Linked DNA regions of Homo sapiens. The protein of the gene in region 1 interacts with the protein of each later gene in a biochemical or structural test. Each region holds a gene or a part of one and is shown in the gene's direction. Other genes may lie near its edges.

Region 1 (7,430 bases):
AATGATTTATGATATATTCAAGATTATAATATTGCTGTAGAAGTCATTGAAAATTAAATATGAGGTTGTCATTTAGTGTTTGAAGCCAGTGTTAGATATTTGGTTTCCCTTTGTCTTCATTGCAGACAGTAAGTGCAAATAAAAATTGCCGTTGAGATCAAAGAGAGTTTTATTTAGAATAAGATAATTCTCCCCCATCTCTGGAACTCAGTATTTGAAAGCAGATTTAATGTAAGAAAAGATTAATCAAGGTGGGATAATGCAAGAATTTCAGACAAAAAAGGAAATAGTCCATTATAAAATTATCTTGCACAGTGCTCTTACCTCTGTTGTAGCTTATTATATAGTTGTTGATTATAGATGATTATAGGAATCAGGTTGTAGTAATAAGAAAGTCTCCTTTTCTATAACAAGTTTAAAGCAGGTGTAGTGTATTTCCAAGAGATATATCTCATATATCTCATTTTTTGTTCTGTAAACAGGAAGCACAGTCCTATGCAGATGACAATAGTTTATTATTCATGGAGACATCCGCTAAAACATCAATGAATGTAAATGAAATATTCATGGCAATAGGTAAGATTAATATCTCTTTTTAAATGATCAATATAAGCAAAACAAGTGTGAAGCATATTTGGTTTGACTGTCTCTTTTTTAAAAAATTTTTGGGGGTGGGTTTGTGTGTATGTTTATGTGTGTGTGTGAGAGAGAGAGAGAGATTATACCACTTTTCTAAGTCCCTTCCACAAAACAATATTTTGTTGGTAATATTGTTAAATTTGAAAGATGATTACCTATTAGGTTGTAATACTGTCAGTTTAGGCAGCTTCTTCCAGGTGAGTTAAGCCTTAACCTCTTAACCTGATAGTTCAGACAGACAGATTTTGCAAAGGTTTCGCTGGGAAATTTGGATAAATATTTTTTTTATTAGATTATACTTTTTAAAAATCAAATTATTGGTAAATATAACTCAGAAGAACATGACACATAAGTATACAGATTGACAAATTATTTTAATGTAAACATTATAAGGAAGATGATTTCAAAGCATAGAGGCGTAAGGAGAAAAAAGGAAAACAAAACAACATCCATACTTTATATTACCTCAGATGGTCATTTGATCTTACACAATGTTCTTGCTGTTGCTTTAAGGTACTTTTTTTTTTTTTGAGACAGTCTCGCTCTGTCGCCCAGGCTGGAGTGCAATGGTACGATCTCAGCTCACTGCAACCTCCACTTCCCGGATTCAAGCGGTTCTCCTGCTTCTGCCTCCTGAATTGCTGGGATTACAGGTGCACACCACCACGCCCAGCTAATTTTTGTATTTATAGTAGAGACAGGGTTTCACCATGTTGGTCAGGCTGGTCTCGAACTCCTGATCTCGTGATCTGCCCACCTCGGCCTCCCAAAGTGCTGGGATTACAGGCGTGAGCCACTACACCCAGCCTAAGGTACTTTCTTTTTTTTTTTTTTTGAAATGGAGTCCTGCTCTGTCACCCAGGTTGGAGTGCAGTGGGACGATCTCGGCTCACTGCAAGCTCCGCCTCCTGGATTCACGCCATTCTCCTGCCTCAGCCTCTCCTGTAGCTGGGACTACAGGCACCCACCACCATGCCCGACTAATTTTTTTTGTATTTTTAGTAGAGACGGGGTTTCACCATGTTAGCCAGGATGGTCTCAATCTCCTGACCTTGTGATCCGCCCACGTCAGCCTCCCAAAGTGCTGGGATTACAGGCGCGAGCCACTGCCCCTGGCCCTAAGGTACTTTTAACTGATGGTAATTGCTGTTTCAGTTATAAGTAATGAAGTTGGAGTAGTAATAAGCCTCCTTTTTTCTATAACAAAAATAAAGGTTGGTTTTGTTTTTTGGTTTTGGATTTTTTTTTTAACCCTTTCCTCTTTCCAGTGGTTTTAATGTATAGATTCTACCTGAAGGGTCTGTTTTGGTGGTTCTCAAAGTTTGCCGTCTGTGGTTTTCATGTGCCCAGCACTCTTCTCATCCCATAACACCTTTTATTTTACAGCACTGATTCTTAACTGGGGTGTTCACAGTCCTAACCCCAAGTAAGAAATATTCTTAAATTGAACTCATAAATAGTTAATAGCTGAATCAGAGAATAATGAAAACCCAGTAAAAGTTGCAAGTATTTTTATTATTTTTCACTAGGTGACAGAGTTTAATGGTACTTCATTCGAAATGGGAAAGAACTTGCCTTTTCTCATGTAAACTGTTTTCCTGAAAAACTCAAGTTTGCAGTTTGCTAGGGAAGTGCTGGCACAGTTGCGAAGGATTGTGTGATAATATACTCATTTTACAAATGTGACAGATGACACCCAGAATCACATCTGAAAAGTTAGAGGAAACAATGAGTTAATAGGCCTCTCAAATCAGCCTGCACTGTAAACCTTTCTCACAATATTTAAACTCTACCAGATGGGCTTTAGTTTGTACCTTTTTATTCAAACATGCTAATAAAGTCATTTTTCGAGTTAGAAAGCAGCCTACATATTTTAGTTTTTTGTTTTTTTCTGAAATCAGAATGTTGCACTTCTTAAAAGAAAATCTATGTTGTAAATGGAATTGTGGCCTTTCCATTTCCTTCACTAGGTTAGTAAATTTTTTTTTCTTTTTTTTTTTGTTATGAAGGAACACTTTGATAGATTAGTAACTTAAATCACACAGTGCACTCATAACAACTCTAATCAATGCAAGGACTAAAAAGTTACTCGTTCTAGTTTACCTCCTTCATCCTCTTAATCTCACTCACCTCTGATTTAAACACTTAGGGAACATGCTAAAGGGATACATGATTGATTACTCAATCTGGAACCTAAGTTGTTATTATATACAATATATAGTGCTATTTTGTGTCCCAGGTACCAGTGTTCAACATTTCTGGGGCTTTGCTTGTAAATACATTTGACTGGAGATTTACCATTATAATGCTATTTATGCTACCAGCCCAGAGCCAGTCCCAGAGAAGTGGCCCAATTGAAGGCTTTCTTTCCAAACTTCAGTGCTCCTGGCTCCCAAATCCATTGCCCAACCCAGCATCTAGGATTCTAAAAATGATTGATGCTGATGTAGAATGGAATGTGTAGAACAAATAAAGGATAAAAGGTTCACAATGCAACTAGGCAATCCGATCTCAAAGCAGAGTGTATTCAATTTCTGAGTAACCTGAGTCAAAGCTATGGTAAAGTTAGAGTCTTACCATAGTGGTCTGTCCCCAAGATTGATAGAGATCAGTGTGTGCAGCCACTCTTAAAATCAGTACTCTTAGTCATCTTTAATATTCTGCCTCCCCTCAAAAAATGAATTTAGCACATCAAGGATCTTATGTATTAAAACAAACTACAGCAATCTCCAACTTTACAGTGGTTTGACTTACGATTTTATAACTCGATGGGGTGAAAGTGATATGCATTTAGTACATTCTTAACTTACTACGGGATTACATACAGAAACCCATCATAAATTAAAAATATCATAAATCAGGCTGGGCGCAGTGGCTCACTACCTGTAATCCCAGCACTTTGGGAGGCCAAGGCGGGCTATCACCTGAGGTCAGGAGTTGGTCAGGAAACAAGCCGGGCCAACATGTCGAAACCCCGTCTCTACTAAAAATAGAAAAATTAGCTGGGTGTGGTGGTATGTGCCTGTAGTCCCAGCTACTTGGGAGGCTGAGGCAGGGGAATTGCTTGAACCCAGGAGGCAGAGGTTGTAGCGAGCTGAGATCGTGCCACTGCACTCCAGCCTGGGTGACAGAGCGAGACTCCGCCTCAAAAAAAAAAAAATCATAAATCAAAAACATACAACTTAGGATGGATATATCAGGATGTAGCCCCATTGTAAGTCAAGGAGCATCTGTATATCCAGCAGGTAAGTTTTTTTAATCAGTGGGAAGCACACTCCAGAGAACAGCCACTAGCTGTATAGAGCTTGGCAGAGGTAAAGCCGTAACTGCTGGTTGAGAGTGTTGTCTGAATTTGACAAGCCACACTCATCGGACTCAAATAAAATTAAGAAATAGTTTTTGGAGATGAGGTCTTCAGGATAATTCTATCTGGATTAGGTACAGCTACTGGTCAGTCAGATTAGGATTCATCAGCCCATAAAAGGAGAAAATGAGGTTGGTTGAGGTGGCTCACTCCTATAATCCCAATACTTTGAGAGGCCACGGTGGGATGATCTTCAAGGCCAGGAGTTCTAGACCAGCCTGGGCAACAGAGCAAGACCCTATCTCTACCAAAAAAAAAAAGCCAGGCATGGTGGTGCACACCCTGTAGTCTCAGCTACTTGGAAAGCTGAGGTGGGAGGATCTTTTGAGCCCAGGAGTTCAAGGCTGCAGTGAGCTATGATTGATGCACCACACTCTAACTTGGGCTACAGAGGGAGACCTTGTCTCCAAAATGAAAAGAAGTATGGCTGCAGGCTACATTCAAACTAAGATCACAACGAAGTGTTGAGTATGTATAAATGTATGTGGATATGTTTGTGTCTAAGTGTATTTCCACTAGCATGCTAAGGTATGTTTGTGTGTGAGTATGTTTCCTCCAGTATGCTAAGTTTTGACACATGCAGGCATCTAACTTGGGTGTTATCTGTCCTTCCTTTGCCCAAAGCATAGATTATAATTGTTCATTCTCAAAAATGCAACTCTTATCTATTTCCCCTTTATTTGAAGGCAGCTGATGGTTACTCTGCAAGGTGTAAGTTTCTCTTTTAAAAACTAAGCGGTCGAGCATGGTGGCTCATGCTTGCAGTCCCAGCACGTGGGAGTCTGAGGCGGAAGAGTTGCTTGAGCCCAAGAGTTCAAGACCAGCCTAGGCAACAAAGTGAGACCCCATCTCACTTTGGAACTCAGGACTGCAGTAAGCCATGATCATACCACTGCACTTAATCCTGGGTGACAGAGTGAGACCTTGTCTCTTAAAAAAAAAAAAAAAGAGAGCATGTATATAGATGTTTTAAGGCCAAAGGCTGTGGAAGCCAGGAAGGAAATAGTAGATATGATCTATCACAATTCGGGGTGATAATTAGTTGCACAGTAGAGGACAAGTTTTGTTGGGGTGATGATTGCAAAGGTATTTGTATCCTGACTTGTTCTAAAAAATGTTTGTGGCAGTCTAGAGAACGCTGATATGAGCTGAGCTTCTTTATAAACTTACTGGCTGGCCATCATCTTTATTGACTTAGATTTTATTTAATAGAAGTAATAATGAGGCCAGGTGCCATGGCTCACGCCTATAATCCCAACACTTTGGGAGGCTGAAGCAGGTGGATCACCTGAGGTCAGGAGTTCAAGATCAGCCTGGGCAACATGGTGAAACCCCGTCTCTACTAAAAAACAAAAATTAGCTGGGTGTGGTGGGGCATGCCTGTAATTCCAGCTACTCGAGAGGCCAAGGCACGAGAATCACTTGAACCCAGGAGGTGGAGGTTGCAGTGAACTGAGATCACGCCATTGCACTCCAGCCTAGGTGAGCCTGGGTGACAGAGTGAGACTACATCTCAAAAAAAAAAAAAAAAAAGAAGTAATAATGAGTATAAAATAAAATAGAACTTTTCTGGTATTATTGAGTGAATCGGTATAGAGAATTACATAAAGCACTAGTTAGGCTTAAGTTTTAATTGTATCTACAACCAGTCCCCATCTACCGTTCCCCCAACACAATTACCCCAGAAATCAAACTCCCTAAGACAGCAACCAATATTTTGGCATTCAATACTCAGTAAACATTTGAAAAGAATGAACATATGGTTATATGATACTTTGGGGGTAACCTAACTGGAAAGAAAAATTATAGATAAGCAGGTGAAACTGATATTAATATGAGTATTCAAATATTCTATTTATTTGATCATTTTCTTTCAGCTAAAAAATTGCCAAAGAATGAACCACAAAATCCAGGAGCAAATTCTGCCAGAGGAAGAGGAGTAGACCTTACCGAACCCACACAACCAACCAGGAATCAGTGTTGTAGTAACTAAACCTCTAGTTTGAACTAGCTGGAATAGTCTTCTGCTTCCTAAATGTTAATAACAATGGAATTGGAGCATTTAACCAGCCCAGTATGACTTCCAAAAGAAGAGACTTATGATAGAGTCAAGTTTCTAATACAGAATTATTTTAAGTGTTTTGAACTTAATTTTTAATAACATGCATGGGTCCCTCTCACTAATGTTTCAACAATAGGGAAAAATGAGAACTATGTGGACACTTGTTTCATTGGAAGGTTAGGGGGAATAATTTCTCATCACTAGGAATATAGACAAATGACTGTCTGGGCCCACACAGTTAACCAGCCCATTTCTCCACACTGGTACAGTAGTCACCTGTGAAAAAAAAATTGGAACTTACTAATTTGGGCTTTTCAAAAACATTCTTTGTTTAGAAGGAGATTCTAAAGTTATTTATGATGCTTAGCCATAGTATTCAGGCAAATGTTCATTTCTCCTGGTACCTGTATTTAAAATGTACATTCCACATTTTAATAAATTAACCACAAGAAAATAATCCCACATATACAAGGTCAGGGGTGGGGAAGAGTATTAATGGTATCTTAATTATACCCAGTCTGGTTTTTTTTTTTTAAATGGGGTAAAAATCAAATGCAACCCCATCTTGTTTTAGGAATTTTGAGAACTAATAAATGCACCTTAATGGTCAGTGTTCCTTTCAAACATGTGAGTTCTTTAACAAAAATGAAATAAACCAGGTGTCTGTGATTTCTAATTAATCACCGCTGGCCATTACACAGGTTTTGTTGTTTGGGGTGGGGAGGGGGCTTTTGTTCCCTTTTGACATAATATAGTCAATGCACTAACAATTATGTATATTCAAACTTGATTATTTTAAATTCGATCTTCAGCTGTACTGTAAATAGGGTACTGCATTGTAGTCTCCATATCTGTATTACTTTTCTGTAATATTTAAGAGTTGCTTAAAAGCATACAAAATGTACTGTTACTAAAACAGCTAATTATTTCTCTCTCCCCCTTTGACAGGAAGGGGCTTCAGTTGTTCCTCCATGGCTAGAACCATAATAAACAATGTACCCGTAATTTGTAACATAAAGTATTGCAATATGTTAGTAACAATCTTGCAGCCTTCCTTTCCAAAGTTCATTTTATTTTGATCAGTTCAGTATATTGCACTAATTATTTTAGGTATTTTCATTATATGAAAGCTACCATGTGTCAGAGATGATTTAATCTATTTAAGTGTTGGACTGCTAGGAGAACTTGTACATTTATGATAATGCAGAATTAGGAAAACGGTTCACCAGTGTTTAGTTTTATATTGAGGTGCTCAGGTTGGAATAAAGTGGTATAAAAAGCAAGTATCGGCTTTTCTCTTTTCCTTTTTTTTGGCATAAAACAGTGAATATATATAAATGATACTATATGACCTAGTATCCGCTT
Region 2 (7,430 bases), 4.9 Mb from region 1:
CAGTCACCCAACAGTGTCCATGGCTCCCGCCGAGGCAGCATCAGCAGCATGAGCAGTGTCAGCTCGGTCCTGGATGAGAAGGACGATGACCGGATCCGCTGCTGTACACACTGCAAGGACACGCTGCTCAAGAGAGAGCAGCAGATTGATGAGAAGGAGCACACACCTGACATCGTGAAGCTCTACGAGGTGATTCGCGCTGTCTGGTCTTGGGTCTAATTTCTTAGGCAGATTTGGCTGTTTGTTATGTACACTCCTGCAGATTCTGGAGAATGCTTTGGGAAGTTGTTCGTTTGAATTATTTGTAGTTCCTGTTAAAGGCCCATGTTATGATTTCCCAGCTAGGGCCCTGTGTGAGTCAGAGTCATCCTGGGTGTGTTGCAACAAACTCGTTTCAAGTGGCCTTCCTTGGCCACTTGAAAGCAGGTGGGTGGAAGCTTTGGTGGCCCAGAGGCAATAGGAGGAAGGGCAGTTGCCATGTGGTGTAGACAGGTTCTGTGGGAAGGGCAGAAGCTAGAGATGTTCATAAACAGTGGGCCAGAAGAATCCTGGGAAACTCACTTGGGAGTGTTAGACTTTACAAGTTTTAGAAAGTTCTACAAGTTTTCAGGCTTCACCAGTTTACTGAGTGTCCCCTTCTAAGTTTGTCCAAATGCCTCAGCTGTCGTTACTTGAGTGATCCCACAGCCCCCCTACTAGATGCATACTCTGAGAGGAAATAGTGTGCAAAGAATATCTGGGAGTGAGACTGGCTTGGTCCCTTAATGGCCAGGTGAGACCTGTGAGCTGAGGAAGACTAGCCAGGTGGACTGGGTGGGGAGGCAGTAAGAGATGCAGGGAAGAGATCAGCCCAGGCAGAGGAAGCAGCTTGTGCAACATTCTGAACAGAGGAAGAGTGTAATTTTGCCTAATGACCACTGAATAGTCATTGTTAGTAGTTCTGCAGGTCATAATGGCACTGTTTCTGGAATCCCTATGTAAATACTCAGGCTACTAGAAATGGTGTCAATTAAGCCCCATGTTGGGTTGCAGATGTAGCATTCTCCATCCTTTGTGTGGAGTTCACGACCTGGTATCTCATTTCTGTGAATACCCACGGTGCTTGTGCCACCTCCTCTTTTGAAGTAAGCCCTGGCAATGCCTTGTGCTGGTTTCCCATTGTTGCCTGGCATCACTTGGCAGAGAAAGAAAGTAGCAGCTAATTCCTTTTTGTCTTGGTAGACACCTTGGCTTGTGCCCTGGAAGCCTTGCTCCTCTCAAAAACATCTCGCCGGGCACTTTGGGAGGCCGGGGCAGGCAGATCATTTGAGGCCAGGAGTTCGAGACCAGCCTGGCCAACATGGCAAAACCTCGTCTCTACTAAAAATATAAAAATTAGCCGGGCGTGGTGGCAGCGTGCCTGTAATTCCAGCTACTCAGGACGCCGAGGCATGAGAATCGCTTGAGCCCAGGAGGCAGAGGTTGCAGTGAGTGGAGATCGCGCCATTGTACTCCACCTTGGGTGACAGAACAAAATTCCTTCTCAAAAAAAAACAAAACGAAACATCTGATCAGAAGCTCCATTCTCACTTTCTTTCCTTCCTACAAAATTTTCTGCTTGGAAAGTATGCCTATAAATCAGGAAATTGATAACAACAATTAATGTGTTAGAAAAGTGAACATTTTAAATATAGCTCCATTGATGGAGCCTAGCTTCTGGGTAGGTGTTTCTATATCTTGAGCATACCACTTACCTCTTTGTTTTTGTTCTTAGAAATTACGACTTTGCATGGAGAAAGTTGACCAGAAAGCTCCAGAATACATCAGGATGGCAGCATCATTAAAGTAAGCTATTCATCTATGTTTTTCTAATCCAGTGGTGACTGTTTTCTGGCATTTTAGGTCAATTCTCCAGTAGCCAAAAATGAAAATCTTAACTTCAACCGTGCTTTTTTTCTGAGACCAGCTGAAGTTGGTTTTTTTCCACTTTTGGCTATTATGAAGAGAATCATCTTCATGTCTGTCTTTTAGTGGGGTACAGGCTACCATCACATGAGCTTGTAGAAAGACAGCCACATTCAGTTGACCTTGGCTATTCTGACTGAGCAGGTTTGGGAAGGGCCTCAGACAATAGGTACTGCTGCTGAGTGCAGCATCTGGACAGAGCAGAGGAAGGGCAGTGGGTCTCATGCTCATGTCTGGGTAGATGCCACTTGAGTGTCACATTGAGGTGTCAGGGCTTAAAGCAGGCATGACCATTAGAGCAGGGGCTGGCAGACTGCAGCCCGTGGGCCAAATGTATCCTGACATCTGCTTTTTTTTTTTTTTTTTCCGAGACGGAGTCTCACTCTGTTGCCAGGCTGGAGTGCAGTGGCGTGATCTCGGCTCACTGTGACCTCCACCTCCCAGGTTCAAGCAATTCTCCTGCCTCAGCCTCCCAAGTAGCTGGGACTACAGGCACGCACCACCACGCTCAGCTAATTTTTTTATATTTTTAGTAGAGACGGGGTTTCACCATGTTGGCCAGGATGGTCTTGATCTCTTGACCTCGTGATCCACCCGCCTTGGCTTCCCAAAGTGCTGGGATTACAGGCGTGAGCCACCGTGTCTGGCCAACATCTGCTTCTTTTTTAAAATTGAGATGTAGTTCACACACCCTAACCTTTACCCTTTTAAAGTGTACAGTTTGGTGGTTTTTAGCGTATTCACAAAATTAGCGAACATTACCACTGTCTTCATTGTAAACATTTTTATCACCCCAGTAGGAAACCCCATACCCATTAGCAGCCACTGCCCTTTCCCCATCTCCCTGGACACCACTAATCTATTTCCTGTCTCTATGGATTTGTCTGCTTTTGACATGTCATATAAATAGAATCATAAATATAAAATCTCTCTTGTCTGGCTTCTTTCACACAGTGTACTGTTTTTCAGATTCATCCATGTTGTTGCATGTATCAGTACTTCATTCCATCTGTATGAATGCATTGCATGGATACTTGTCACATTTTGTTTATCCATCAGTTGATGAACATTTGGGTTTTTTCCACTTTTGGCTGTTATAAATAATGCTTCTGTAATATTTGAGTACAAGTTTTTATGTTTTTTGTGTAGACATGTTTTCATTTCTCTCGGGTAGGTACCTAGGAGTGGAATTGCTGGGTTTTATGGTAACTATATATTACCATAGAGTAACATTCCATAGAGGAATTGCTAAATCGTTTTGTGGAATGACTGCACTATTTTGCATTCCCACCAGCAGTGTATGAGGGTTTCACTTTCTTTATAGCCTTACCAACACTAGTTATTGCCACCTGTTTGCATAAAGTTTTATTGGAACACAGCCATGCCCATGTTTGATTACTGTTTGTGGCTGCTTTTGCACCACCATGACAGAGTTGAATAGCAGCAACAGAGACTGTGTGGCCTGCAAAGCTGAAAACATTTATGATTCGGCTCCTTATGGAAAAAATTTGCTGATCCCTGCTTAAGATCGTTGCTTTTTCTGAAGCTTAGTGTTTGTAACCTAGAAGTTAAAGTGCTAACTACTAGAGTCAGATCCCAGCAGTGTTTTCCCAACCTGTAGGAAAAGAATTAATTATGGTATCTAGTGTTATTAATTTCAGAGTTTTCTGTCTTTGTCTTAAACCTGTGTTGCCTATCTGCCACATTTAAAGCGATGCATGTAGTAGTAGATGTGCCTTTTTTAAAAACAAAACCATGTGTATATATATATTTAAAACAAAACCATGTATATATATATATATATATATATATATATATATATATATATATATGTATTTTTTTTTTTTTTTTTGAGACCGAGTTTTGCTCTGTCGCCTAGGCTGGAATGCAGTGGTGCGACCTTAGCCCACTGCAACCTCCGCCTCCCAGTTCAAGCAATTCTTCTGCCTCAGCCTCCTGAGTAGCTGGGATTACAGGCACCCACCACGATGCCTGGCTAATTTTTGTATTTTCAGTAGAGATGGGGTTTCATCATGTTGGCCAGGCTGGTCTCGAACCTCCTTGGGTACTTTTGAGCGAGAAAAGCCAAGTAGCTTTCTGCTCTTAATGTAGTGTAACCACTTCTTACATCTTGTTAGATATAGTGGAATTGTTTAGGAAAAGTAGGCCAGAGTAAATTCAGCCGCATTTGTTTTGGTGATGAGCATAAGGGCTAGTCCTTGGAGGCCTTGGCATGAATCTGTCCCTGTTGCGTCTGCAAATCGAAACATCACTTCCACTTGATTCATTCATTCCAAGAGATGGACACTGCATTATATCTGAAAGTCTGAAATGCCACCTTTAGAGAATTAACTGCCTTTGTGAGGCCTTACACCTTTAGCGTCCTTCTACACTATGCTGTCCAATCTGCACCATGAAACTTAGGTCACGTGTCTCTGGTTTCTCCTTAGTGCTGGGGAGACAACCTACAGTCTGGAACATGCCAGTGACCTTCGAGTGGAAGTGCAGAAAGTGTATGAGCTGATAGACGCTTTAAGGTAAGGTCCATTAAGTGGTATCCTGCCCGCTGGTGGAATGGAGAAGATGCTGTTCTAATGAAATGGCGAAAGCAGACCTGCACTCACTCAGACTTCTGGTGATGGGGCAGTGGGTGAGGAGGAGGGCAAGGAAGGGGCCAGCTCTGGCACTTAATGCATCTCAGTGACTTTTGTTTCGTTAAGGATTTCTAATGTTTGCTATTATTAAAGAAAGAGGAGCTGGTTATTGACACCTATCACCTGCCAGTCACTGGCTGTTTTCTCTAGAATAGCTCATTTATTCTACTGAAGTTACCCTGTGAGGTAGGGATTAACATCCTGTGTCAAAGGTGAGGAATCATGTCACAGATAGCAAAAATTGTGGAGTGAAGATAGAAACTCAGGTTCTTTCTTTGTGTCTGTGCTCAAGTCCACAGCTGCTTTTTAACTGTGGACTGGCCATTGGGGTTAAATTAGCCAGTGACTCAGAGGGAGAATAAGATGAGGTGCCTTTGTCCATCCAGACATACAGCAGGAGTTCGTAGTTGCAGGGCCTGGTACAAAATGAAAATGCATGTCCCCTGTTCAAAAGTTATTAAGAATAAAGACACTAACAGCAGAGCATTAAACCAAGCACAGGGCTCTTTTAAGTGCCAGTCCTTTCCAGTTGCATAGGTTGCTCACCTGTGAAGCTGGCTCTGCATGTGTAGTCAGTCACTCCATAACAGTGTTGTGCGCCCTTTGCTAAGGCCTGTGTACAGCCAAAGGGTAAGAAATGGGCTTTGCCTTCAAAGAAACTTCAATGGAGTCACTTGTCCATCTTTACACACCTTCCTGGCATGAAAGCCTGGCAACTCCAGATGTTATACTTTTCACCCTTGTTTCTGAAGCTGGCAGTGCTCATTATATTCATGTGTTTGTTCCAATTCAGTAAGAAGATCTTAACCTTGGGCTTGAACCAGGACCCTCCACCACATCCAAGCAATTTGCGGCTGCAGAGAATGATCAGATACTCAGCTACACTTTTTGTGCAGGTAAAGCCATCCTGGGTTGGCATAAATGTTGCACTTGGCCTGTCCTGCTCTTTTGCTTCCCAGGAGGCAGATCCATGCCAATGACTTGTTTACTTCCTATTTATACATTTATTATTTTTTGAAATTATGAATGCATGATGCCACACTTAGAGAAAAATCTGGATTTCAGAGAAAACTAAAACTACTTTTAATCCTATGTCCCCATTACAATCACTCATTATTCTGGTATGTTTTCTTTTTTCCCATTTGTATTTTTTATATACAGTAGTTACGATACTGCATATTGACTGTATATGCCATTCTTTAACCGTTTTCCTTTAGTTGGACATTTGATAGACTAATTTTTTGCTGCTGTTAAGTGTTGCCATGATAGTAATAATGGTACTTAGTATTTCTTCCTTAGGATAATCTCCTAAGAGACTCTTCTTGAGCCATCAGCTGGGAGGAAACAGCCGATTAAGGGCAGACTAACCTAAGTGGTTAGATCTGAATTGTGTCTTTCTATCCCTGAAGGCCCCTTCTGAGAGAGTCACAGTTAACCACTCTTGGGGCTCCCTGATAAAGAGATCTGTTTTTTTCTTTTTTTTTAAATTAAAACAAAGTGTTTTTTTTTTCTTTTATTAAATAGAGACAGGGTCTTACCATGTTGCGCAGGCTGGTCTCAAACTTTTGAGCTCAAGCAGTCTGCCCACCTTGGCCTCCCAAAGTGCTGGGATTATAGGCGTGAGCCACTGCACCCAGCCAACAAAGAGATCTAATAGACAGAGTCCTGTCAGGTTAGTTTTCTAACTCTGTAGTATAGAGAAGTAGGCCCTTCCTCACTTTGATTAGTGACTCTATTCAGCAATCATTTGTTGAGTGCCTCCTATGTACCAGGTAGTGTTTTAGGTGCTGGATGTCCTATAGTGAACAAAAAAGACCAACGTTCCTGTTCTCATTAAGCTTATGTTCTAGAGAAGGAGAGAGATCATAAACAACTAAAATATCTAGTATGTAAGATAGCAAAAGTGCTCTGGAGAAACTTACAGCAGGGAAGTGTGGGAGAGAGGGCTGGGATTGAGGTTTGCTAAGTTAATAGGATGGGCAGGGACAAGACCTCATAGAGAAGCTAACATCTGAGCCAGGTGAATAACTGGGATATCTGATGTTGATCATTTCATAAGGAAAATGCAGGCCCATTTGGAGTTGACTGTCTCACCCAATATGAGTTCTCTCCTTTCTAGCTGCTGTCAAATGATGTCACTCTCTGAGAACAGAGTGGCTCAGCTTAAGCAGACTCTCATCATGGGGCTTAAGGTTCATTTTTTCTCTAAAAGGGTTTAAGTGTAAAATTGTCTGTCACTCCCTGCAGGAAAAGTTGCTTGGTTTGATGTCACTGCCAACCAAAGAACAGTTTGAGGAACTGAAAAAGAAAAGGAAGGAGGAAATGGAGAGGAAGAGGGCCGTGGAGAGACAAGTGAGTGAAGCCAGGGATATGGGGCCTGCTTCCTCCTGTGGCTCTCAAGCACAGAGGCTGCCATGGGCTCCCAGGTTGTGTGCGGTTGTAGTGAATCAGAACCTCTCTCTCAAATGTGCATATTTCTTCTGTTGTGTTTCAGCCTCACTTTCATCTATGGGAACTAGAATAATTGTTTTTCTCCCCAGGGCCTATTTTTCTTTCAGAGCTTCTGCTGATTCTCTCATGGCTAGAATACCACAGAGATTGACAGTTCTCCCTATGGCAGGAGTTGCAGAGGACCAAGACATTAGGAAGTTCCTTGTAGAACATATCGGTATATGCAATATTAAACAGAAAATTATATGTGTATTTAACGCTGCGTGAGATTCCAGTGTAGATGAGGGGAACAGACCTTAGAGGTTTAAGAAAAGTATACGGCCTGTGAATCTAAGATTGAGAAAATCTGATGCCCTAACTTATTCATTATATTTTATTTTT
Region 3 (7,430 bases), on another chromosome or scaffold:
GTGGACCTGAACAAGATCATAAAAGATCATCTGGTTCAGGCCTCTACCTTCAGACAGGGTATTTTCTCCATTCTAATAGATGAGACAACCAAGGCCCAGAAAGGTTGAAAAACTTGCTGAAGTCATGCACTGTACCCACTTGGTGGAATTTAATGCCTTTTGATGATGGGGATGGTATACTGTTTTCATGCTTTAGTTATTAACACTAAGTAAGGTTACAGAGTGTGGGCTTATCAGGCGCTGAATGTGTCTTGTTGAAAGAAGACAAAGTACCTTGGTTTTCCTTTGAAAATTAGAGTTCAGGATAATTTGTGAAATTATTCAAGTATTTTCTGTGTATGATCTTTCTCTAGACTTTGGAGACACAACTGTGGCATTCCATATTATCATACAGGAATTTGAAAATGAATAGTGGATGGTGTATATAATCTACTGACACTTTATTAACCTTTTTAAACCACCAAGGTTTGAGACAGCTGTGCTTCCTAGCTCTTCCCTGTTAAGAGCAGTCCATGTTCTGTCTTTTTATCTTAGGCAGTGCCTTGTGTTGCCTTAATGCCTTAGTACAGGAAAAGCTCCAGTTGGATGTCAGACTTTTTAAAAAGTACATGAATCAGTGCTGCATAATTTCTATATGGCAAGTTTGGAGGCATCTGCTAAAGAATCAGTACACGTGCTGCATTTGGTCCAGAGAGTTAGCAGAGTGCATGATGGACAGTGTTTTGTCTCAAATACCATGTGGATGCTTGGATTTGATATTTGTAACTGGAAAGAAGTAAATGGATGAGCCATTGATAGACATTCTGGCAACTATTAGGAACATGAATATCAAGTGATAGAATCCCAGGGAAAGAAAGGAAGCAAACTGAATGTGGGGAAAAAAAAGAAAGATTTTAAATGGTAACCAACTGTCACACTCCCTTCTCTTTCTTATTCCCTTGGAAAGGCACAGCAGCTTTTAAAGGTCATCAGTGCTTGTTAAAGAACACAATGTTAAGAAGAGACCTCAGCTCGGCTGTAGTGTATGTGGTCTCTGTCAAAGTAGTGACATGCTCCTTTTTTTTTCTTTTAAAGCTACGTGACTGGGGGTTGTGGATGGAATTCACAAGTTGCACAATGTTAGGCAAGAATTTCTTAGTTAAACATACAGAATATATATGACCTCAAGCTAGAGGCGGGGGAGGGAGGAGGATGCAAAAAAATTGGTCATGGTTCTCTCCACTGGGATTTTTATGAAGGGTGCCTTCAGGTGCCTTTACTATTTCAAACATTTTTTCATGTAATTTATATTTGATTACATGAACCTAAGATAACTGAGTTTATTTCCTAGCCATTTCCAATTCACATATAGTGATTGATTTGATTTATGTCACTTCTGGGTTTTTCTCTTACAAAATTCTTTCAGAAGAATATAACAGATAGTAGAAAGATAGATGAAAGGAGTAAAAGCCCCTAGAAATCTTGGCTGAGCTATTCCTAGAAACTGTAACTTCTGGACTCAGACCTTAAACTTTTCGTGGTATTTCTGCCTCTTGGTTAGCTGTATTCAGTTTACTATTTTTGGACCTTAAGGCTTACGAGTTTTAGCACCTTAAGATTAGAACTTCCATCAAGCCTGAAGTATTTACATATGTGGGTCTAATGTTGTGGAGAGTTGTCTTTAATTCCTGAAAACTAAAGAAGCTAATTTAAATCAACATTGAAAACAAACAACAGTATCTGTGGTAAGACCTGAAGGAAGAGTAAGTTAGAAATAAACAAAAACCTAAGTGTAGACCTTGATCTCTCAAACTACTGTATTGACAATTGTAATTTAATAGTCCCCAAGTCACCAGTGCTGTATGGACTCCACTGTGACTGTATCACCGGAGCACTGGTTCTCAGTGTCACCTTTGAAAGGATTTAAACACAAGGCATCCACGTAATAAACATCATAAACGCAAATGAAATGCAGAACAATTAAGTGAAGCATTTAGGAAAGGACATCCTTTAACTATGGGACTCGCTATCAAGTGCCTTCTGACCAGGAGTGTCCCCAGTGAGAAGAAATGGAAAATCTTAAGAGATGAAGATCACATTTTACCTGCATGACCAGAATTTGAAGGACTTTAAGTTATACACCAAAGTCTTTATTCTGAGACCCCTTTGATTCTCATACTTTTCCATCTATTAGGAGAAATCCCTTCTGCAAATGGTTCCTTTGGATGAAGGTGCCAGTGAGAGACCCCTTCAGGTTCCCAAGGAGATCTGGCTTCTAGTAGATCACCTATTCAAATACGCCTGTCACCAGGTAAGTGAGAGTAGACCTTCCCTACAACTTTGGAAGGTGTGTAACTACTATAGGAAATCACAACACCTCACGTCAGCATAGCGCTTTTAACTTTCCCAAGCTACCTGCACACAGTGGCACTGTCAGATCGACTGGGTGGGTGGAAGTGTCCTAGTCACAGATGTCACAGCTGAAGCATGTAAAGGTAAGTTATTTACTAAGACAAAGGCCTAAGTGTAGTTGTGGCAGAGCCAGGACCAAATTAAGAGCACCTGTCTCCTGGCTACCCTCTCATTTTCCCTGGACAGCTGCACACCTGAGTCTATAATGCCTACTTTGGCTATGAGTCATGTAGGCATTAGAGATTGTAAAATCCAAAGCAGATTTTAAACCCATTTTTTAACTTGGTCCTAATTTTTCTTTTAAATCCTAACTAAAATGCCACCCCACCTCATTCGCCCCCAAAAGAGATATTTCTTGGGACTAAATTGAAAGGTAATGTTCTCTTACCTACTGACGAATAATGTAACTTGAAAGCAAGGTTTAGTATGAGCATGCGATTTCCTCCTTCCCCAGCGTTCAGTAGTACTAGCATTTGAATGTGGTTATTCTGTTTGGACTCTGCCTTCTGCTGCTTGTCAAGAGGCTACAAGTAGGCCAGGCATGGTGGCTCATGCCTGTAATCCCAGCATTTTGGGAGGCAGAGACGGGCGCATTGCTTGAGCTCAGGAGTTTGAGACCAGCCTGGGCAACACGGTGAAACCCCATCTCTATAAAAAAAAATTTTAAAGGAGGCTAGAATTAGAACACCTGGTTTCCTGCTCTAGCCATCTAGTCCCCTGCCTTATTAGGTACAGGCTAAAACCTTTGAAAAGATCATTTTCCTATTTGAAATAACATTTCACATGGATTAGAGAAATGCTAAAGGAAAAATGTGTTATTTTCACACCTCCATTTGTAATTATTAACACACATACCACCCTTCCCTTTTGCTTCCTGCTGCTCTTCTGATCCTTGGGTAATCATCATAACCTCAGGAGTGATTATCTTGCCTGTCCCTTCATTCTGACTTCTTTGGTAGGAGGACCTGTTCCAGACCCCTGGAATGCAGGAAGAGCTCCAGCAGATCATTGATTGTCTGGATACCAGCATTCCTGAGACAATCCGTATCCTTTGCGACCAAAGCTTAAGAAGCTGGATGAGTACTTGATCAAACTCTTCTTCGCACCTATATTTGATTTTTGTGGTTCTATATTTATTTTCTTTGTAATATCTTTTATTATAAGATAACCACTGACTATCCACTTGTTTCTCATTTCCTTTCAGGAACTTTTGACCTCTTTCCATATCCAGCTCTTACTAAAAGGAAGCAAGGGGTAGATAACAATGACTTAAAAGCATGGGACATAGAAGCCACAGCACTGGTACTATTCTCCTTCAGGTGATCAGTCACTCCTGCCACCACACGTACTGTTGACAGGGCAGGGAGAAGGATGGGAAACATGGGCACCTGGTTTATAGGACTGCTCCAGTGTCAACTGTCACTCTGCAGGCTATATTCCCCTGACCCTGAAGCTGGGCCAAAGCTGCCAAGAGTCTTTGACCAATTCTGTAACAACTCACCTGCAGGGCACTTGAATCAATAAAATATCAAACCCCCATTAGGATCAATGTGCCCTGAATAAGAGGAGGGAAACAGTCCCTGTAGGAGCTTGAGGAAAGGAGCTCGTCGGGGCTCTGTGTGGCCTTTCTCCTGGAGCTCCTTTCCCTTGACTTAAGTTGATTCAGCTGGCAGCAACCACTCTGTGGCTGAAGCACTGCTCATTTTCTTGGAAGCCCTGCCAGAGCCAGTCATCTGTTACGAGCTGTATCAGCGATGTCTTGACTCTGCTTATGATCCCCGGATCTGCCGACAGGTGGGTTCTACTGACCTGGGGATGTGTTTGACGCAGATTGCCCCATAGAGAAGTCGTCAGTTTTACAGAGCCAGATAGGCAGCCAGCTGTCTGGTAGGATGGGTCTGCATCTGTTATTAATGGCAGGACACCAACATTGAGAGTTGCTACCCTTAAATTTTAGGTTGTGTTGTTTCCTACGATATTTGCCACCTTTTTCCCATTGGCCTATTTCTGTTTACAGAAAACATAGTGGGGTGGATCCCTCTACTCTGGGGTAAATTGGTGAAGCTGATTGTACGTGGAATTCTGGCTGACATTACCAGGAAGGATGGGTGACACTTGGGAGCCTTTCTTCTTTTTCTCTTCTTGGTGTGTGTTTTTAATCCTGAAATGATTTTAATGCACAGTAGCTGACAGTACCTGTGAATTGGACTAGTGAGTATTGAGAGGAGTCCCCATCCATGCTAAGTGACATTGTAAAGAAAACCATTCAAACAAAAAAGAACAGAAAACCATTCAGCTTGGTAGGTGCCGTGGCTACATGCCTACGGAAATGGGAAAAGAACAGATGAACACTGACCTATTGTGAGGCAGGGTGTGCGTATGAATGTGTGATGACCACGTGGCCTGGTCATTGAGTGGACAGGGACCAAACAGCACGGCCACTCTTACTTTGAAGTTATAATTTGGAAGGTATTGTGTTGGCCATGAGGAGATAATAGAAGTTAGACAGATGAAATGGGTCCTGCAAGGGTTGGATTATAGACTACTATTACAGCAGCTGTAAGTTCCTCTTACTTTCATCTTCCACCTGTTTTTCTCACTGCCTGCCCCTATTTTTAAAAACAGGTGATCTCCCAGCTTCCGAGATGCCATAGAAATGTTTTCCGTTACTTGATGGCATTCCTTCGAGAACTCTTAAAATTCTCTGAATACAATAGCGTCAATGCCAACATGATCGGTAAGAGTGCTTCATGCAACACGGGGCGTTTGTTGAGAATACTCTTAGTGCATTGTATCCAGTATATACCTTACTGCATATGCAGGCACATGGCAGTCAATAGTCCTTGTCCCCAGGCCCTCCAGCCCTGAGGTTTTGCTTAGGTTATGTCTGACAGAAGTTTCCGCTTGTCTTTCTCTCGTCTTGTAGCTACTCTCTTCACTAGTCTTCTCCTGAGGCCTCCACCCAACCTTATGGCAAGACAGACTCCAAGTGACCGCCAGCGTGCTATTCAGTTCCTTCTGGGCTTTCTGCTTGGGAGCGAAGAAGACTAAGGCTTTTACTGTTCTCTGATATTCTAGAAGCAGACGATCTCGGGCTCCAAGTATTTCAGAATGATTTAAAAAGTCATGCCACAGGAAGGGTCTATTGCAGAATTTCAAGTTCTGTTTATAGTAAAAAGGAAGAGCGTTTCCTAATCCCTCCTTTACCATATCCTACACAGAAAAATACTTTTAGACTTATATTGCCAAGCCAAAGTTACCATATTTTGGTGTTTTTGTGTTTTCTCTTTATAAGGCAAAAAGATCTGTATTTACACTCCTTCACCTAGGGATGTGTTTGTTGCCCTCCTACCCAATTGTCATGATTGTCCTTAGTACCCTAGGCCTAGATTCTGAGATCTTCCCATTCTAGGCCTACAAGCACTACTTGCTGTAGCTGAGACTTGTCTAGAGTCCTTTGTTTTGCACTTTTGACCCACCCCTTCCTGGATCACTCCTTTGCACTCCACTCCCCTCGTTCTGTCACTTTGAACGAAGTCTGAGTGAGGCTAGTGACTCCTTGGGTGTCCTCAACAGTGAATTCACTGTCTGCGTGCAGTTATTACATGCATTTGTGCATTTCTACTACAATGGCATCTTTATGTCTCTGTAACATTGGCCTTTTCATGGCTCCACACTGGGTGGAACCATATTCTCTTAGATCACATTTAGTAGCATAACTGTAGGGACTATTAGAGATGGCATCTCATCGATGAGAGAGAATCACAATCAGAATGGAAGCACTTTGAGTATCTGAAGAGTGAGAGCATTCATGTTTGACAGGTCCTGCTTCCCACTATCCTTTTCCTGTTATTATTCAAATTTTACACAAGGACTAATCCTGGGTGTCTCTGAGACCCATCTCCTGCCTAGACATCCACCTCCAGAGCAACACTGGCCCCACAGTAAAAGAGGAAGTCTTGTACCTCAGGCAGGCCCATCTAGAGCTATTGCTCCTTCCCACAGCAAAGGTATTGTGGATGACCCTTAGAATCCATTCTCTGGTCTTCTGAAATACCAAGGGCAGATGTCACCTCCTTCCTCAGCAGGACTGACTCTGGGCTCTACAACCAGCTCCTTCACATAAAGGGTTTAGAGACTCCCCTTGGCTCCCAGTCACCATATCCAGTGTTGTGTAAAGAGACTGGCCAACAGGACCAACCAAGCACCTTACCTCTCCCATACAAGATGACCCTCTGAGCTTTTCATTTATTCAAGCTCTGTGGTACAGCCTTTTTTTAAAATAAATTAATCTATATTGGTTGACAAACAAGCCACCAACCACTGACTGCAAAACTGCCTGATGCAGTTGGGTTCCTCCTGGTTTTCTTTTGTTACAACCACCCTTGCCTGTTTACATTAATTGCAAGGAGCATAACGTACAGGCTGTATGTACAATCCTGGGCATTGACTCTGTGACATTTCTAGCATATCCAAGGCACCACCAGTGATTTCTCCTGTTTCTTGGTGGGGGTGGGGGGGAAGGTACGTATTCTGCAATATGGCTAAACCCTTTCCTGATTGAGAGTTAAAGCAATAGGAGTCAAGTTACTGGTGCCACAGATCTGGAGGTATGATAGGTCAGGGGCTAGGTGTTGAACTTAGTTAATGGAAGACTGAGAGCAGAACAGGTTTGTCATCTCCGCAAGGCCAGAAAGTGATCACAAAAAGAGGCAGATGATAGACACTGGGGTAGGGTCATACCACAGGGAAATACCTTTCCTGGGCTTGTTTTCTAGCATATCACTGACCTGGGATCTTTGGGTGATCAAGGGTGTGGTTAGTGGAGGCTCTGTGCTGCACGTATGCAGTATCCTATCTCTTTCTACATCAGATCAAAACACTAAGTTGGTGTACTGCCTCGACCTTTTTTCAGCTCATCCTGGAACATATACAGAGTTGAGAGTTTTAGACAATCTCTAGGTAGAGGAGACAAGATGTAGACCCAGACAGAAGAAATCTGCTTCCCTACCATGGCTATTCCAGCACCCCAACCTGTA
Region 4 (7,430 bases), on another chromosome or scaffold:
TTCTCCAGAGGCCTCAGTTTCCTTTTCTGTTAACAATGGAGGTCAGACCAAGTGGTCTCCAAGGGCTTGCCTTGCAGTGACCATCTACAAGCCTATGTACTGTTTCATCCACATTCCAGTCATTATGATCATTTGTCAAATGCCTGTTGTAAAGTAGTTTGATACACTACATTCAGTTATTGACATGTTTGAGAAATAGGAAAATATTGACATATCAAATGAACAGAAAGATCACTGAGAGCTTTTTAAGGTCCAGGCAATGAAAGAAATCAAAATACATTGATATTCTTTGCCCTTCAAAGGAGTTTATAGTCTGGCTGAGGAGAAAAGATTTTTAAAACGTTGAAAAGTTAAATTACAGTATTCTGAGACTGGAGGAGAAGAACATGTTGGTTCCTGATTAGTCTGTCCACAGAGAGCACAGTATTTGATGGGCCACAATGTCAGCAATGAGTGTGGGCACAATGCGAAGCTCAGGAGGCACACAGGGCCGCAAGACTGTGCCTGTGACTTACTGAGAAGAATCACAGGAGTTCAGAGGAGGGAGGCGGGGTGCCGGCTGGCCTAGTGGATAAGGAAGAATTTGAGCTGGGTTGGGAGAGTTGGGTGAGCAGCAGAATTGGGATAAAGATGGAAATAAGGAAAAGCATGTGGTATGTGTGGTACAGCTCTCGTAGAGGGTGCATTAAAGGAGTGGAAAGGGAGGCTTTTGGGGAAATTAGAGCCAGATGGTGATTAAATGCCAAGCCAGGACCTTTGGTTCATTCAGCTAACATTTTTTAGTGCCTACTATGTTCCAAGAATACATATGACTTAGCTATAGCATAGGCCCTCCAAAACCTGCCTCACAGAGAAGGATACAGACAGAAAACTAGTAACACAGTGCAGGATGCTGTGCAGCAGAGAGAACTGCAGGAAATGGGGCAGACTGAAGGTTTTTAGCCAAGGATATGAAGGAAGTTTGAAGAAGGTTTATTTGTAGAATGGATTAAGGGATTGAGGTCAATCTTTCCCCTTGTATTTTCATTCATAAAAGTCACCTCAGCCTTCAACAAGTATTCACTTGATTATAAAAGCGTAAGGTTAAGGGAATTGATTTTTTTCCCCTTCAGCCAGAACCTGAAAAATTCAGAGATGGAAAATGAAAATGACAAGATTGTTCCCAAAGCAACAGCCAGTCTACCTGAAGCAGAGGAGCTGATCGCGCCTGGAACGCCGATTCAATTCGATATTGTGCTTCCTGCTACAGAATTCCTTGATCAGAACAGAGGGAGCAGGTATGGGCTGAGAGAGGTTATCTCTGGGAGAACTGAAAGTAAATTTGAGGTATCTTGTGTCCCCCTCCACCACCAAAGACTGTTGCCATTCTGATTTCCAGTTCAAGTGTTAAGTGCCCTTCTAGCTGCAGCTGTCGTGTTTGTTCAACTCTGGCTATTCCCCTAGGCGTACCAACCCTTTTGGTGAAACTGAGGATGAATCATTTCCAGAAGCAGAAGGTAAGTGACTAGTTTGGTGTCCTTATTCTTTCCTCTGCACAAAATGACAACGGCCATTGAAATAAGATGTGAAATCATGTTTTAGAGAGCTATGATTAGGAGTATGAATTAAGATTTGTTGTTCTGAAAGTTTAGTAAGATATCTGCAGTGGAGGCAAGTCTTGGATAAAAACTGAGGGGTAGCTGAAAGACCACCTACAGCTATTTCACCATTAGCCATAGCGTTTTTGTAGCATAGCATAGAAATGTTGTGAAATCTGAATCTGTTATCACATTCAAATGCAGTCTTGGTGAACTGGAAATACGCTGTGTCATTTTAGAAAACCAAAAGCACAAATAACTTGTTCTTGAATTTGAAGATGACACAAATGATATTTAAGTCTTTCAAATTCAAATTTTTGGTTTTTTACATTCTTATAATGTACTTAAGAACGTATCTGATGGCCGGCACGCTGGCTCACGCCTGTAATCCCAGCACTTTTGGAGGCCGAGGCAGGTGAATCACGTGAGCTTAGGAGTTCAAGACCAGCATGGGCAACACAGTGAGAACCCTGTCTCTACAAAAATATATATATATATACAAAAATTAGCCAGGTGTAGTGACAGGTGCCTGTAATCCTAGCTACTCAGGAGGCTGAGACATGAGAATCACTTGAACCTGGGAGGCGGAGGTTGCAGTGAGCTGAAATCATGCCATTGCACTCCAGCCTGGGCTACAGAGTGAGACCCTGTCTCAAAAAAGAAAAAAAAGAAAAAACCTTCTTTGGTCTTCTAGTTATGGTTGCTGGGAGTCAGTTTTGTCAAGTTATGCGCCACTGTCAGCAGCCAGGACTGACTTCCTTTAGGCTATGAAACATCATCACTGCCTTTCCGTAATACACATGAAGTATGAATTGCATGAGACCCAACATGAGATCTTATATCCTGCAAATAAAATTTCTTTTCTAAGAGGACTTTATCAGTGGGCCAAAGTAATGAATTTTCTATTGTCTAGTGAACTCACTCTTTTCAGAGAAAAGGTACAATGTAGTCACCTAGAGTTTCAGCATTAGAAGGATGTTCATCTGGTACCACCATCATTTCATTTTATAGATGAAGAAAAGCCTTTCTAGTCTAATGAAGTAGTTCCAAACAAACTGACAAGATGTAGACAAATGGAAGACGCAGAGCTTTGGCAATATTGGGCTTATAAAAGTGGTATTGAGAAATTTTGGTAGAAAGTCCTCCACAGAAAGCAGGCAAAACTAGCACATCTGACCCTGGTATGCAGATCAACAGCAGCAGGAAGTAAATGAGATCCTGAGTGGAAAATGCTGTCTTCCAGATTCTCTTTTGCAGCAGATGTTTATAGTTCGGTTTTTGGGATCAATGGCAGTTAAAACAGACAGCACTACTGAAGTGATTTATGAAGCGATGAGACAAGTATTGGCTGCTCGGGCTATTCATAACATCTTCCGCATGACAGAATCCCATCTGATGGTCACCAGTCAATCTTTGAGGTACGTTCAGTTTTATTTTCAGACTTTCTTATGGCTTCAGCTAATTCCCCTTTTAAGGCTAATGCACCCATCTGAAATGTTAGTACTGGAATGAAGAGACTACTCTTGCTTTTGCCCCCACTACTTTTTACATAAGATAGATAGCCTAGAAAGTGCTCCCTTAGAGACAAGAACTGGTATCTTCAAAAATCCAGTGGTGAGTGAATACTGTTGTTCACAAAGATGCCATCACACTAGACTTATTCTCTATATTATAGCTCAGAGCTTGAAAATGGAAGTTTTTTGGTTTTGCTTTTTTTTTTTCATTTCTGAGAGTACTATTTATAAAAAATAATGGAAAAAAACTTAAAAATCTGCCTAAATAACTTGGCCATCACAGAGAGAGCAGGCCATATTAACTACATGATTTAGTGTTTCAGGTAATACGATCTGGGTTTCAGATATGACCAAAATCCTGGTTATGAACATGGGTGTATGATACTGTAGCCACAGGTAGCATCTGCAGCAAAACTAGCCTGAACTGAGATGTGTTTTCAGTGTTAAATACATACCAAATTTCTAAGATTTAGGATGTAAAACATCTCACTAATTTTTTAGGTTAATCACATGTCTGGTAATATTTTAGATATACTGGATTAAGTAAAATTAATTTTATCTGTTACTTTTCACTTAATGTGGCCGCTGGAAAAACTTCGATGACATATAAGGCTTCCATTACATTTCTAAGGGACAGCACTGCTTTAGAGCCAGAATGTCTCAGTTTATTCCTGGCTTCGGCATTTCTTAGTTATGTGACCTTAAGCAAATTTTTGAGCCTCTGTACCTCAGTTTTTTCAGCTGTAAAATGAAAGTAACTATTCACACCCTCCACTGTTGTCATGAGGAATAAATGTCATGAGGAATAAATGTGCTAATATATGTAAGACATTTACAACTCACTGGCACATGAAAAGTGCTCAATGAACGTTAGCTTCAAAAAAGGTAACTAGGACTATAGCAAAAATTAGGATATAGCTTCTTCCATTCATTAAGCCCATCCTTTTCATTTATTATGAACCTTATCTGAGAATTAAGTTCTTATTAATAAAACCTGTTCTTTCACTATGTCCTGGACCTTTTACAGAAATGGGCTCATGGTTCTTATAATCCTATTGGTCCTGGAATAATTTCCACCAAAAAGATCAAAGGAAAATATATGTAAAAGTACTGTGAAAAACCACAGCACATCAAAGTGAAAAGAAAAACTACAGAATGGGAAAAAAGTATTCACAAATTCTATCTAATATGGATGTAGTACACAAAATATACAAAGAACTCTTATAAAACTCAACAGAAAGACAACCCAATTAAAAAATGGACCAAGGACTTGAAATAGACATTTTTCCAAAGATCATATACAAATGGCCAATGAGGACATGAAAAGATGCTATGTGTTACTAGGGAAATGCAAAACAAATCCACAATGAGATATGTCACTCCATATTAAGATGGCGTGCGCACGCATGCACACTGTCTCACAGATGTTTATATATATATGATATATATGATATATATATGATATGATATATGATATGATATATGATATATATATGATATATCATATATATGATATATATGATATCGATATCATATATATGATATATATGATATATATATGATATATATATTTAATGGAAAATAAGCGTTTAGCAAGGATGTGAAGAAACTGGAACCCATTGCTGGTGGGAATATAAAATGGTTCAGCTGCTGTGAAAAAATAGTTTGGCGGGCTCCTGGGTAGTTACCCAAAAGAATTAAATACAGGTGTTCAAACAAAAACTTATACGCAAATGTTCATAGCAGTCCTTTTCGTGATATCCAAATGGTGGAAATAATACAAATGCCCAACATCAAATGAATGGATCAACAAAATGTGGTAGAGTTGAGCATTCCAAATCTGGAAATCTCAAATGCTCCAAAATCTGAAACTTTTTGAGTGCCAACTTGATGCTCAAAAGAGATGCTCATTGGAGCATTTTGGATTTTGGGATGCTCATCCTGGTAAATATAATGCAAGTATTCTAAAATCTGAAAAAAAAGCTGAAATCCAAAACAATTTCAGATACAGGATACTCAACCTGTATATATATATGATGGAATACTATTTGGCCTTAAAAAGGAACAAAGGACTGATAAGTGCTACAACATGGATGAATGATGAAATCATTGTGCTAAGTGAAAGAAGCCAGGTACAAAAGGCAACATACTGTAGGGTTCTGTTTATATGAAATATCCAGAGTAGGCAAATCCATAGAGACAGAAGACAGACTAGAGATTGCCAGAGGGTGGGAGGAGGAATGAGTAACTGCTTAATGGGGATGGAGTTTCCTCTGGGATGATAAAAATGTCCTGGGACTAGATAGTGGTAATGGCTGCACAAAGTTATGAAGACACTTAACATCACTAATGATAAATCTGACGTTATGCATACGTCACCACAGTAAACATACCCCTGCAGTGGAATAGGTTCTGAGACCATTTAGAGGTCACACAGAAAATTAGAAGATTTAAAAAGAAAAATTGATTCCCAGACAAGGTGCCTGAATAGGAACAGCTCCAGTCTGCAGCTCCCAGTGAGACCAACACAGAAGGCAGGTGATTTCTGCATTTCCAACTGCGGTACCCAGCTTATCTCACTGGGACTGGTTAGACAGTGGGTACAGCCTATGGAGGGCAAGCAGAAGTAGCGTGCGGCATTGCATTACCCAGGAAGCACAAGGGGTCGGGGAACTCCCTCCCCTAGCCAAGGGAAGCCGTGAGTGAGGGACAGACCTATCCAGCCCAGATACTAGGCTTTTGCCACTGTCTTTGCAGCCCGCAGACCAGGAGATTCCATCGAGTGCCTACACCACCAGGGCCCTAAGTTTCAAGGACAAAACTGGGCGGCCATTTGGGCAGACACTGAGCTAGCTGCAGGAGAATTTTTTTCGCACCCCAGTGGCGTCTGAACCTCAGCGAGTCCCAACTGTTCACTCCCCTGGAAAGGGGGCTGAAGCCAGGGAGCCAAGTGGTCTTGCTCAGTGGATCCCATCACCACGGAGCCCAACACACTGAGATCCACTGGCTTGAAATTCTCACTGGCAGCACAGCAGTCTGAAGTTGACCAGGGATGCTCGAGCTTGGTGGGGGGGAGGGGCATCCGCCATTACTGAGGCTTGAGTAGGTGGTTTTCCCCTTAGAGTGTAAAGAAAGCCATCAGGAAGATCATACTGGGCTGAGCCTGCCGCAGCGCCATAAAACTGCTGTAGCCAGACTGCCTCTCTAGATTCCTCCTCTCTGGGCAGGGCATCTCTGAAAGAAAGGTAGCAGCCCCCAGTCAGGGGCTTACAGATCAAACTCCCATCTCCCTGGGACAGAGCACCTGGGGGAAGGGGTGGCTGTGGGCGCAGTTTCAGCAGACTTAAATGTTCCTGCCTGCCAGCTCTCAAGAGAGCAGCAGGTCTCCCAGCACAACGCTTGAGCTCTGCTAAGGGACAGACTGCCTCCTCAAGTGAGTCCCTGACTCTGGTGGTTCCTGACGGGGAGACACCTCCCAGCAGGAATCGACAGACACCTCATACAGGAGAGTTCCAGCTGGCATCTGGTGGGTGCCCTTCTGGGATGAAGCTTCCAGAGGAAGGAGCAGGCAGCAGTCTTTGCTATTCTGCAGCCTCCACTGGTGATACCCAGGCAAAGAGAGTCCGGAGTGTACCTTCAGCAAACTGCAGCAGACCTGCAGAAGAGGGGCCTGAAGGAAAACTAACAAACAGAAAGCTATAGCATCAACATCAACAAAAAGGATGACTACACAAAAACCCCACCCAAAGGTCACCAGCATCAAAGACCAAAGGTAGATAAATCCACAAAGATGAGGAAAAAGCAGCACAGAAAGGCTGAAAATTCCAAAAACCAGAATGCCTCTCCTCCTCCAAAGGATCACAACTCATTGCCAGCAAGGGAACAAAATTGGACGGAGAATGAGTTTGAAGAATTTACAGAAAGAGGCTTCAGAAGGTGAGTAATAACAAACTCCTCCAAGCTAAAGGAGCATGTTCTAACCCAATGCGAGGAAGCTAAGAATCTGGATAAAAGGTTATAGGAACTGCTAACTGGAATAACCAGTTTAGAGAAGAACATAAATAACCTGATGGAGATGAAAAACACAGCACGAGAACTTCGTGAAGCATACACAAGTATCAATAGTCAAATCGATCAAGTGGAAGAAAGGATACCAGAGATTGAAGATTAACTTAATGAAATAAAGTGTGAAGACAAGATTAGAGAAAAAAGAATGAAAATGAGTGAATAAAGCCTCTAAGAAATATGGGACTATGTGAAAAGACCAAACCTATATTTGATTGGTGTACCTGAAAGTGACAGGGAGAATGGAACCAAGTTAGAAAACACTCTTCAGGAT

The links.
Region 2: the proteins of RAB5A (region 1) and RBSN form a complex in vitro, tested with the Homo sapiens proteins (3 studies listed by BioGRID, with this or other methods).
Region 3: the proteins of RAB5A (region 1) and OCRL form a complex in vitro, tested with the Homo sapiens proteins (2 studies listed by BioGRID and IntAct, with this or other methods).
Region 4: the proteins of RAB5A (region 1) and APPL2 form a complex in vitro, tested with the Homo sapiens proteins (one study listed by BioGRID).

The regions. Positions count from the first base shown.
Region 1 is NC_000003.12:19,977,828-19,985,257, forward strand, and holds the end of RAB5A (ras-related protein Rab-5A), read left to right. Parts: intron 1-482; coding exon 483-576; intron 577-2,133; exon of another isoform or gene 2,134-2,347; intron 2,348-5,880; coding exon 5,881-5,996; 3' UTR 5,997-7,348; downstream 7,349-7,430. UniProt on the Homo sapiens protein: The small GTPases Rab are key regulators of intracellular membrane trafficking, from the formation of transport vesicles to their fusion with membranes.
Region 2 is NC_000003.12:15,075,126-15,082,555, reverse strand, and holds part of RBSN (rabenosyn-5), read left to right. Parts: coding exon 1-189; intron 190-1,753; coding exon 1,754-1,824; intron 1,825-4,394; coding exon 4,395-4,481; intron 4,482-5,391; coding exon 5,392-5,494; intron 5,495-6,845; coding exon 6,846-6,950; intron 6,951-7,430. UniProt on the Homo sapiens protein: Rab4/Rab5 effector protein acting in early endocytic membrane fusion and membrane trafficking of recycling endosomes. Required for endosome fusion either homotypically or with clathrin coated vesicles.
Region 3 is NC_000023.11:129,584,829-129,592,258, forward strand, and holds part of OCRL (inositol polyphosphate 5-phosphatase OCRL), read left to right. Parts: intron 1-2,173; coding exon 2,174-2,290; intron 2,291-3,350; coding exon 3,351-3,435; intron 3,436-4,057; coding exon 4,058-4,185; intron 4,186-5,016; coding exon 5,017-5,128; intron 5,129-5,317; coding exon 5,318-5,442; 3' UTR 5,443-7,430. UniProt on the Homo sapiens protein: Catalyzes the hydrolysis of the 5-position phosphate of phosphatidylinositol 4,5-bisphosphate (PtdIns(4,5)P2) and phosphatidylinositol-3,4,5-bisphosphate (PtdIns(3,4,5)P3), with the greatest catalytic activity towards PtdIns(4,5)P2.
Region 4 is NC_000012.12:105,183,838-105,191,267, reverse strand, and holds part of APPL2 (DCC-interacting protein 13-beta), read left to right. Parts: intron 1-1,112; coding exon 1,113-1,277; intron 1,278-1,443; coding exon 1,444-1,496; intron 1,497-2,820; coding exon 2,821-2,995; intron 2,996-7,430. UniProt on the Homo sapiens protein: Multifunctional adapter protein that binds to various membrane receptors, nuclear factors and signaling proteins to regulate many processes, such as cell proliferation, immune response, endosomal trafficking and cell metabolism.